Regions from separate parts of the Homo sapiens genome. Here region 2 is linked to region 1. A link means that fine-mapping ties the variant in region 1 to the expression of a gene that starts in the linked region. Tissue or cell type: nucleus accumbens. Region 1 holds a variant in brackets; the other region holds the start of a gene. All regions are shown on one strand. Distances are from middle to middle.

Region 1 (4,248 bases):
CATGCCTGGTCTTAATTTTCATTTTCTACACCCATTTCTTCACTTTTCTAATTTTGAGGGAAAATAGAGTGGTTGTATTGAATCTCAGTCTGTCACTACTGGCTAATAACAGCTCTGAATTTTAGAAAAGATTCTTATAAACATTTAGTGCCAATCTCGGGACAGACCTGTGAGTTTTCCAGCTATACTTCTTGGATGTTCTGGAGAATTGGTGGAATGTTGTTTGACTAGGTTTTTGCTGGTCATCTTTTTAAAATTCATGATAGTATGATACATTTAAAGAGTTTCCTTTGTATATCTCAAAAGATGATGCTGTGGTAGGGCTGCCATGGTTTTAGGTTCTACTTCTTTGGTTCTCAGGAACATAAGCAGTCTTAACATGTTTAAATATTGTTGGTGCCCTTTAAATGTCTAATTATACCTTCCAAAGAGTAGTTAGACTGTTTTGGCACTTCACTGTTAACACCACCAAATCTAACAAAAGATGTATTAGTCTGGTTAGTTCTGAGTGAGGAAAACAGAGAAGACATTCAGTAGGGCAAGTTGAGACCTTATTCCTCCATACATTTTTTTAGTTTTTACAAATCTTTGTTGTGGTGGAAACTGTGGTGCTGTGGAAATGTTTATTTTTCTTTTTGTGGAATTTTATTTTTCCTAGACTGCCATTTCTTCTGATATTTTTGTTTTACTGTGTCTTTTTCTTTTTTTCCCTATGCTGTTTTCCTCTTAGCTCTTAAAGGTAACCTTTGGCTGTTTTCTCTCATTCAGTTCATTCATTGGTTTTCTCAAATGTCACCTCTACGCCGATGGCTCTTACAACATATTTCTATTTATGTGTCTCATTGGCAACATCAAACCAGTTTCTAGTGTGTACCGTTTATTCCAAAAGTAGTCTGCCTCTCAACTTTACTGCTCCTAGTAATGATACTACTGACTTTCTGATCATTTGGTCCATTGCCCGTTTTTTCTCTTACCGCATTGTTAATCACTCCAAGTCTTAATGAATTCACTTTGAAGTATTTTTGCTTCTCTCTCTTTTGCAGTTGTAGTGTTTATTGTGGTCTCTATTTTATAACCATTTCTTAAAGTCCTAGACTTTCCAAGATTATTGGATTTCACAGTCCAGAAGATTTCAGACAAAATGCGTATACATCAATACAGGGATACTAGTTGACCAAGTAAGAAGTTAAACATTGCATTGACAAAAGAAATACTATTTTAATATTAGAAGGGGCATATTCAGAGAAAAGGACAATCTTGCTGAAAAAAGACAACTAGCAACCTTATATTCACATAACTTAAATTTATCTTTCCTTTTCTCATTGTACTGAAGACTAGCATAGAATCCAGATTGGCATTTGGGAACAGCTGGCCTGTATTGTATTTTACATGTGTGTATCACAGTATCTGACATAATTTAGTACATGATTAAGACAGTAAAACTTTTTCTCTTATAGAATAACTTTTCTGTTGACTATATTATTGATGCTATTTAAACCCTATATTTAAGGTTGTAGTAATTGATCTACATCTCAATTCGGAGTAAAAGATAATTAAATTTCAAATTAAAGGAAAATTTGAATTATAGGATATTTGAAATTACCTTTAAAGAAAAAGAACCTACAGGTGCATATAATGAGAAAAATCACTACCATATTTTTATGCAGTCTTTTGAAAATCAGCGAGGTCCAGGCGGATGTGTGCAAAGTTGCATCTTAATCTGAATTTAGTCCCAAATCTTAATCTGAAGTTCCAAGTTTTGAGATTTTGCATTTTTGTTTCCCTATGCTCTATAAACATTGGAATTTAGAGATAATTATTAAAGCCATTTTTTGGTAAACTACTTGATAGTTTGTTCAAAAATCACAAATACTAATAGTTTCTCTGTCTTTATGCTTCTCACTGAAAAGATCACCTTCAAAGGCTTAATAGTGCTTT[A/G]GCTGCTGTGTTAATTAATCTTTGTTGTTCTGAAAATAGAATGCTTATTGTGAAATTAAAATTAACTAAAGATAGTTACTATCTTTAACTTAATAGATTTTAAAAGTAAAATACCTATACTTATTTTGAATATTCTTTAAATATGATAGTTTTAGGAATTATAACATGTTTTTCTTCTAAAAAAAAAGCAGACACGATTGTTGAAAAGAGAAACAGTTTTTGTTTTATAAAGGTGCTTCCCTTGATGATAGGGCATAGCACAAATCACTTTAACATTGGTTAATTGGCTTTTTAAAAATCAAAGATTAATATTCATTTTACTTGATTAGGTGAATTATATGCAACACTGAAATTTTGCACTCTATACGCAAGTTACTGCAGGATTCAAGTAGATAAGTGCAAGTAGAGTGTTTTAGTGGGTCGTGTTTCTCATGCAAATAGAGTTTTTAGTTTCCTTCTCTTGTTTTTCATAGGGTTGGTCTTGCTGTAAGAGAAGAACAACTGATTTTTCTGATTTCTTAAGCATTGTAGTAAGTACTAATTATTTTTTCTAGATTATCTTCCTAAAAATACATGTTATAGAAAGCTTCAGATTTGAGGAGTCTGATTTCTGATATAGATTGATTGGTCTTCATCAACTTGCAGATAACACCTTTCAAAAAGCAGCTCATCTCCCTTCCACAGCTTGTAAAATAAAGAATCTGTTTTGGAAATTAACGTTTTAAGGTATCAGTTACCTGCTTATCATTTTAGGTTTGTTCTTTCTGTTATGTTGAAAGAACATCAAGGAGAAAGTGGTAAGCAACAATTTAAAGCCTTTTCAGTTAGGAACGATAAAGTTTTATCTAAGATGCTGTTGAAATATTTTACATACCACTTTTATATAAAACCACTTTATATACCACTAAGAAAACTAAAGCTACTAACAAACTGATAATGCTATTGATTGTATCATTTCAGAGGTGTTAAAGAGTATGTATAATTCAGTAGAATGTAGTAGAAAAGTAGCTAACGTTTGTTGAATGTTATCACCTGCCAAATGTGCCAGGCATTTTATTATTTAACTCTCTCAGAAAATATCTTACCTGACATTACCTCCATTTTACAAATGAGGAGATGGAGGTTTAAAAAGATTATCTTGCTTAAGGTCATATAACTAATAAGTATGTTGAGAACTAGGTCTCAAATTGAGGCCTTTCGAGTAACAGATTTTTCTGTATAACTATTTTTTACAGTTCTTTGTGAGATTCTCCAGAATTCTTCTGTAAACAAGAGGTTTATGCCATATTTTTAATAGAATAAGTAGATGTTTATGAAGTGTAATTCAAAGACTTTTTAAAAAAGCCGTCATTCAGAGATTCAGCAAATATGGCAAATTTGGAGTTCTGTTTTTAATTTCTTAAAATCAATGTATTGAAACTGGAGAAAACATGAAATAGAATCACTATCAATAAAGAACTGAAAAGATAATATTTCTATCATGAAATGTAAAATAGATAGCTCTTAATGAATTATCTTTCACTAACAGGGCTGTACAAAAGGTAGACATAATAGTGAGAAGCCACCTGAGCCAGTCAAACCTGAAGTCAAGACTACTGAGAAGAAGGAGCTATGTGAATTAAAACCCAAATTTCAGGAACACATCATTCAAGCCCCTAAGCCAGTAGAAGCAATAAAAAGACCAAGGTATACTTTATACAGTTACATATTTTTGTCACACTTGAATAGTAGCACTTGTGCATGGTACTTTCCTTTATGATTTAGCATGATACCATTTGTAGCTACTATGTAGGCCACCAAGCTTTGAACCATTTGGTTTCTCCCTTAAATCTGCCTTAAATTTTTATTTCTCTTCAACTTGAGAGCATGTACACAATATAACTACATAACAGATTTGCATATTGTACTGTCATAATTACAGGGACATGTATCATCAGGGTAGGGAAGTCACATTTTTCTTGTGCCTTAGAGTGCATCTTTTTCACTGTGGCATGGTAAAATTCTTTGAAGCAGTTTTCCTTTTCATGGCATGAGTTTGAAGTAGAAAATAATGCAGAGGCCTAATCATCCATCTTTACTTTCAGATGCCTGAAAACTACCGTTAATCTCATTACTACTGGTCAATTTTTAATGCATTTGATTTAGATGACATATTTGTGAAAGTAGTCTTAAAAAAGCGTTTGCTCATTGTGCAATAGAGTTGTACAGATTCTTCATACTTGCCTTCTGATAACCAGACTCTGTATTCCCACACATGTATATTGAGTACCTTTGTTGAACCAGGTCTTCTTCGTGCTACACTTGAGTACT
Region 2 (4,248 bases), 81 kb after region 1:
AGATTCTAGAAAATGCAAATGAATCTCCAGTGATATAAAATTGGTTAGTGATTGCCCAGTGACAGAGATGGAGGGGGATGGGGAATAAACTGCAAAGGGCATAATGGAATATTTTTGTAGCATGATGGAGGAGGTGGTTTGTTCAGCATAGCATACGTCTGTCATAACTCTCAAATTGTAGGCTTTATAGGGATGCAGTTTATTTTATGTAAATTATACTTCACTAAAGCTGATTTTAAAAAATAACACCCATTTGAAAGAGTCTGAATACAGAAATAAATACCATGGCCATTGTTCTTAAGGAGTTTATGATCACTCCCCCAATTTCCACTGTTTTTCATGGTTAGAAGCTGGAGGAATGGCAATGATTCTTTTTGGTTTCATTTTGTCTTATTTGTAAAAAACAAATTTATACCTGCAAGATGGGATAAAGGTTTAACTTTTGGCAGACAGAATCAGACACTTTGATCACTTTTCCACTAAATCACTTAGTCAACCATCATCTAACTTTCCCTGACAGAATATGGTATCTAAGAAAATTGCTGATTAAAACCCAGGCACTGATGAACAAAGAATAACATTCAGTTAGATCCAAAGTTACATGAAGTTGAAACATCTCTCAATAAGCCAACCAGATACTTTTTGTTACATAAAGTTAGGGAAGAAAGACCTACTTTTTCACCCCAAGACTGGTGTAAAGAGACATTAAAAAAAAAAAAAAAGTTGATGACTAATATGTAATTTCACACAGAGAAGACTGTCCTCATGCATATAACCAGGTATAATATGCTTCTCACTGTGATATTTTAAACATGATTTTTAAGATCAAATACGTAAAATAAACTTACCGAAGAAATGATTTGATGTTTTCAGCTTTCATTTCGGATACCAGTTTCCACCGTATACTTTGATGATAGCGCACAGAAGTGGTCGTTTCTTTGAGAGGCTTAATAAACCAGCCTAAGGAAAAAAAATACACAAACATGCACACATACACACAAAATCACTTTGACTTTATTAAAACTAGAAGCCACCCCTCTGTCCTTCCCCCCAAAAAGCCTTTATCTGACAAGTAGATCATGGTGAGCTTTAAAAAATAATGTTTATATTAAATGCAGAAAACCTGTAAATTCTGATATGTAATATAATTTTTAGATGCTTAAAAGGAGTTTTATTTAAGAGAAGCTCTTTCATTTTCTCACGTTATGCATGAAGGCATGGCTTTTGTTGTTCTTCCCTGGATCTCTAGTCCCTGACACATAGGGAACATTCCACAAATATTTATTTACGTATAGAGCAGGGTTTTGTTTTGCTTTGTTTCGTTTTGCTTTGTTTTTAATGCTGCCCGTATTAGTTGAAAGTTTTGACTCACTAATGTTGCTTGGAAATAAAACGATTTTTTTTCATCCCTGCAGACAGTGACAGCTGTAGGTTGTCTTTAGTGAACTCAGTGAACATTTAATAAATTTGAATTTCAAGCACACTTTATCTATTAGCAAGCCCAAAATACATTCCATCTGGTTTCTAGTTTTGCTGAAATGTGCAGAGTTTATCATATCTAGCCCAGCCGGCCAGGGCTAGCGCACAGCCCAATCCCTTCCAGCTCCAGGATTTCTCCCTTTATCTCTGCAGAGAATCACGAGCCCCGGAGTCGGGGTAGAGTGTTTTGTTCACTTACCCACCATAAATCCCATCAGGAAAGATGCCAGCGCAGCAGCCAAGCACATCCAAAGGTACAGACGGCCCCTGGATTCCGCCATGGCTTCTTGAGGACCGAGCTTGGGGCGCCTGCTACATTCGCGAGCTTCGGGGCTGCAGAGAAACAGAGAGCGCGCTGGCAGGAGGCTGTGAGCTCTGGGTGGCCTCCGCTGACCTTCGCAAGGCCACGCCTCCGCCCTACCCGCTGGGGACCTGTGGTCCCCAGGGGCCCTCGATGGGGGAAAGGAAGCCCTGCAGAGGGAGGAGACATTCTTCCTGTTGGCGGGCAACTTCCATTCTGTGGATCCCGCAGTAACCCGGACATAGTAGGTGGCGGGAGCTGCTGAAAACGTCCCTAATTTTTTCCTAAAGAACTCTACTGCTGTTTGCCATGCCCATCCCCCAAAATGCCCAGTTTCGGCTCAGAAGTGAATTTAAGTATTGCTTTTCCTGATCTATTGGTTATTCTTCTTCCAGATTCTCTGCTGTAATTTCCCACTCGTCAGACTCGGAAATGATTTCTGGTCCTGGGTGCTCCGCTGTTAAAGCTGTTAACATCACTAATACCGCAATCACTGTCAGCATCAAAATCGATGGGATTGCGTTTTTTTGTTCCCCTTTACTTAAACAAAACTCCACATTTCTGTAATTCTGTTTCCACTCATTTAACTGAGGTTTTTACCTACCTCACTGGAATGTTTTAGGTTCACATTAGTAAAAGTAATCACTGAAAGGACCTTGCACTGCCAGTAGTTACTGAGAGTCTGTTCTTAATGCTAAAGCTCAGACACCAATTTCCCAAAATATGGTGCTTTGACATGCTAAACCGAAGAAGCCAGGGGGTCTCTCTGACCATACCCCTCTCTTCCAGCTCCTCTCTCTCAATCCTTTGTCTCTCCCATAGCACAGAATAAAGCTGTTCTCTAAAGTTCCCTTATCTGCCTAAAGTCCAGAACTACTAAAGGCAAAAACAAACAAACAAAAAAAAAAAGAGTTTCTTTCCTGAGTTTTCATTAACCGAACTAATATCTCAGGAAGAAGGACTGCAGTCTGTCAATACAACTGGCAGCCTTCTGTTACAAACTCTCGTCTGCCCTGTAGGGCCAACAGACTTTGTCCCAGGCCATTGCATATTCTTCAAGCCCATTGAATTTCCCTAAAATTCATTTACTACCCTCTTAAAATTATACACACATTCTCATCTTCCTTTCCTCTAAAAAGATGGGTATATTATCATCTGTACCTCATTGGTTATTGGGTAATCATTCTACTACGATTCCCTTATGCTATGTTATTCATAAATTTGTAAGCCTTTTTTTTTTCTAATAGTCTGCCTTTTGTGAGTTGATTTTCCAGCAAAACTTCAGAGGGTGAAGGGGAAGCTTTCCATTGACCCCTACATTAGCAATGGTCCCTGTCATTCCCCTGTCCTCACCATGCTACATTCATGAAGCATTTCTCTTTAAAGATGGGTTTGCAAAATAGTGGCCATTGTAAATAGCCTTCATCCAACCATCTCATCTCAGAGAAAAATTTTAGGAATTTATGATTGGCTTCACGTATCTAACCAAAAGTAGTTTTTTCAGCCAAAGCAAAACTGCTATGTTGATTTCAAAGATGGTAGTATATCTAGGATAAACTTCACAGCATTGTCTGCAGCCCTGATAGCTTTAGGTAATGCACCTTTGCTCCTAACAAGTGACTGGAAGAGTGAAATTTATTTTTCTGGGACATAACTTTTTTTTGTCCTTGTATTTCAATGGCTATCAATTGAACATAATTGTTGATAGGTATGCCTAATAACTTATTTCTTGAAACTTTTGTAGCATACCTGGTACTTAACTTTGAAGCAAACCTCCTTAATGAACTGTTGATTTCTAAATGTTTGCATGCAATTTAAGTCCCAACTAACTTCAGCTTTTTCAGCTACTAGCCTGTTAGACATTCCTTGACTGACTCCTCCAGTGTTTTTTATTTTAGAGAGAAACATCTTTCAAAAAACATTTTCATAACAAAGTGAGTTTGTTCCCCCTTATATGCATACACACAACACCAAATATAGGGAATTAGAATAGAATTATTCAAAAGGTTCAATATCCAGTGAAGTAACTAAACCCCTCAAATATGGCTTAAGAAACATTTTCCAAGAGCACTCAGAATTATTTTTATGTGTGACATTATGAAATAATACTGGGATTTTAATAACTCTCCAGTGTTTAACAGGTGACACACAAAGGTCTCAAACAATATCAAATGTTATTTTTGTACATATAAACATTTTGGGTATTGATTGTGTAATTTGTCAATTTTTAGACTCTTGGCTTTTTCTATTTGCTACCCATTGGACCATTCACTGTTGACTACATAGCCCTCAAGAGGCAGATCAAAATTATCTCCAGGAAAAGATTTACTGAAGAAAGAGAAGGTAGAAACTAATGAATAAAGTTGCTAAGCTATTTATTAAATTTATTTTTTCTTGCTCATTTTGTGTTTTTTATTGCTAATTGAAGTTTGAGTAATAGAATAAATCAATGCATTATTTAACACAGT

Which allele goes with the higher level. Alleles are on the strand shown, and positions count from the first base shown. SD is a standard deviation of normalised expression in the study named.
In carriers of allele G in region 1, the expression in nucleus accumbens of the gene that starts at base 1,856 in region 2 tends to be lower than with A alone (small effect, 0.27 SD a copy in GTEx).

The links. PIP is the estimated chance that this variant, and not a neighbour inherited with it, causes the effect. A credible set is the group of variants that fine-mapping cannot tell apart.
Region 2: it holds the start of NAALAD2, and the variant in region 1 is the best candidate, but not a certain one, in a credible set for the expression of NAALAD2 in nucleus accumbens (GTEx, PIP 0.70).

The regions. Positions count from the first base shown.
Region 1 is chr11:90,213,394-90,217,641 of GRCh38, reverse strand. It overlaps CHORDC1 (cysteine and histidine rich domain containing 1), which reads left to right. Exons shown (of 11, transcript NM_012124.3): 3 at 2,412-2,468; 4 at 3,467-3,624. Among named protein-coding and RNA genes, the nearest start is that of CHORDC1, 7.5 kb to the left of the region's middle. The variant A/G (reference allele first, on the strand shown) is at 1,939.
Region 2 is chr11:90,132,271-90,136,518 of GRCh38, reverse strand. It overlaps NAALAD2 (N-acetylated alpha-linked acidic dipeptidase 2), which reads right to left and starts at 1,856. Exons shown (of 19, transcript NM_005467.4): 1 at 1,679-1,856; 2 at 849-960. The coding sequence starts at 1,760. RefSeq lists an enhancer at 1,249-1,952.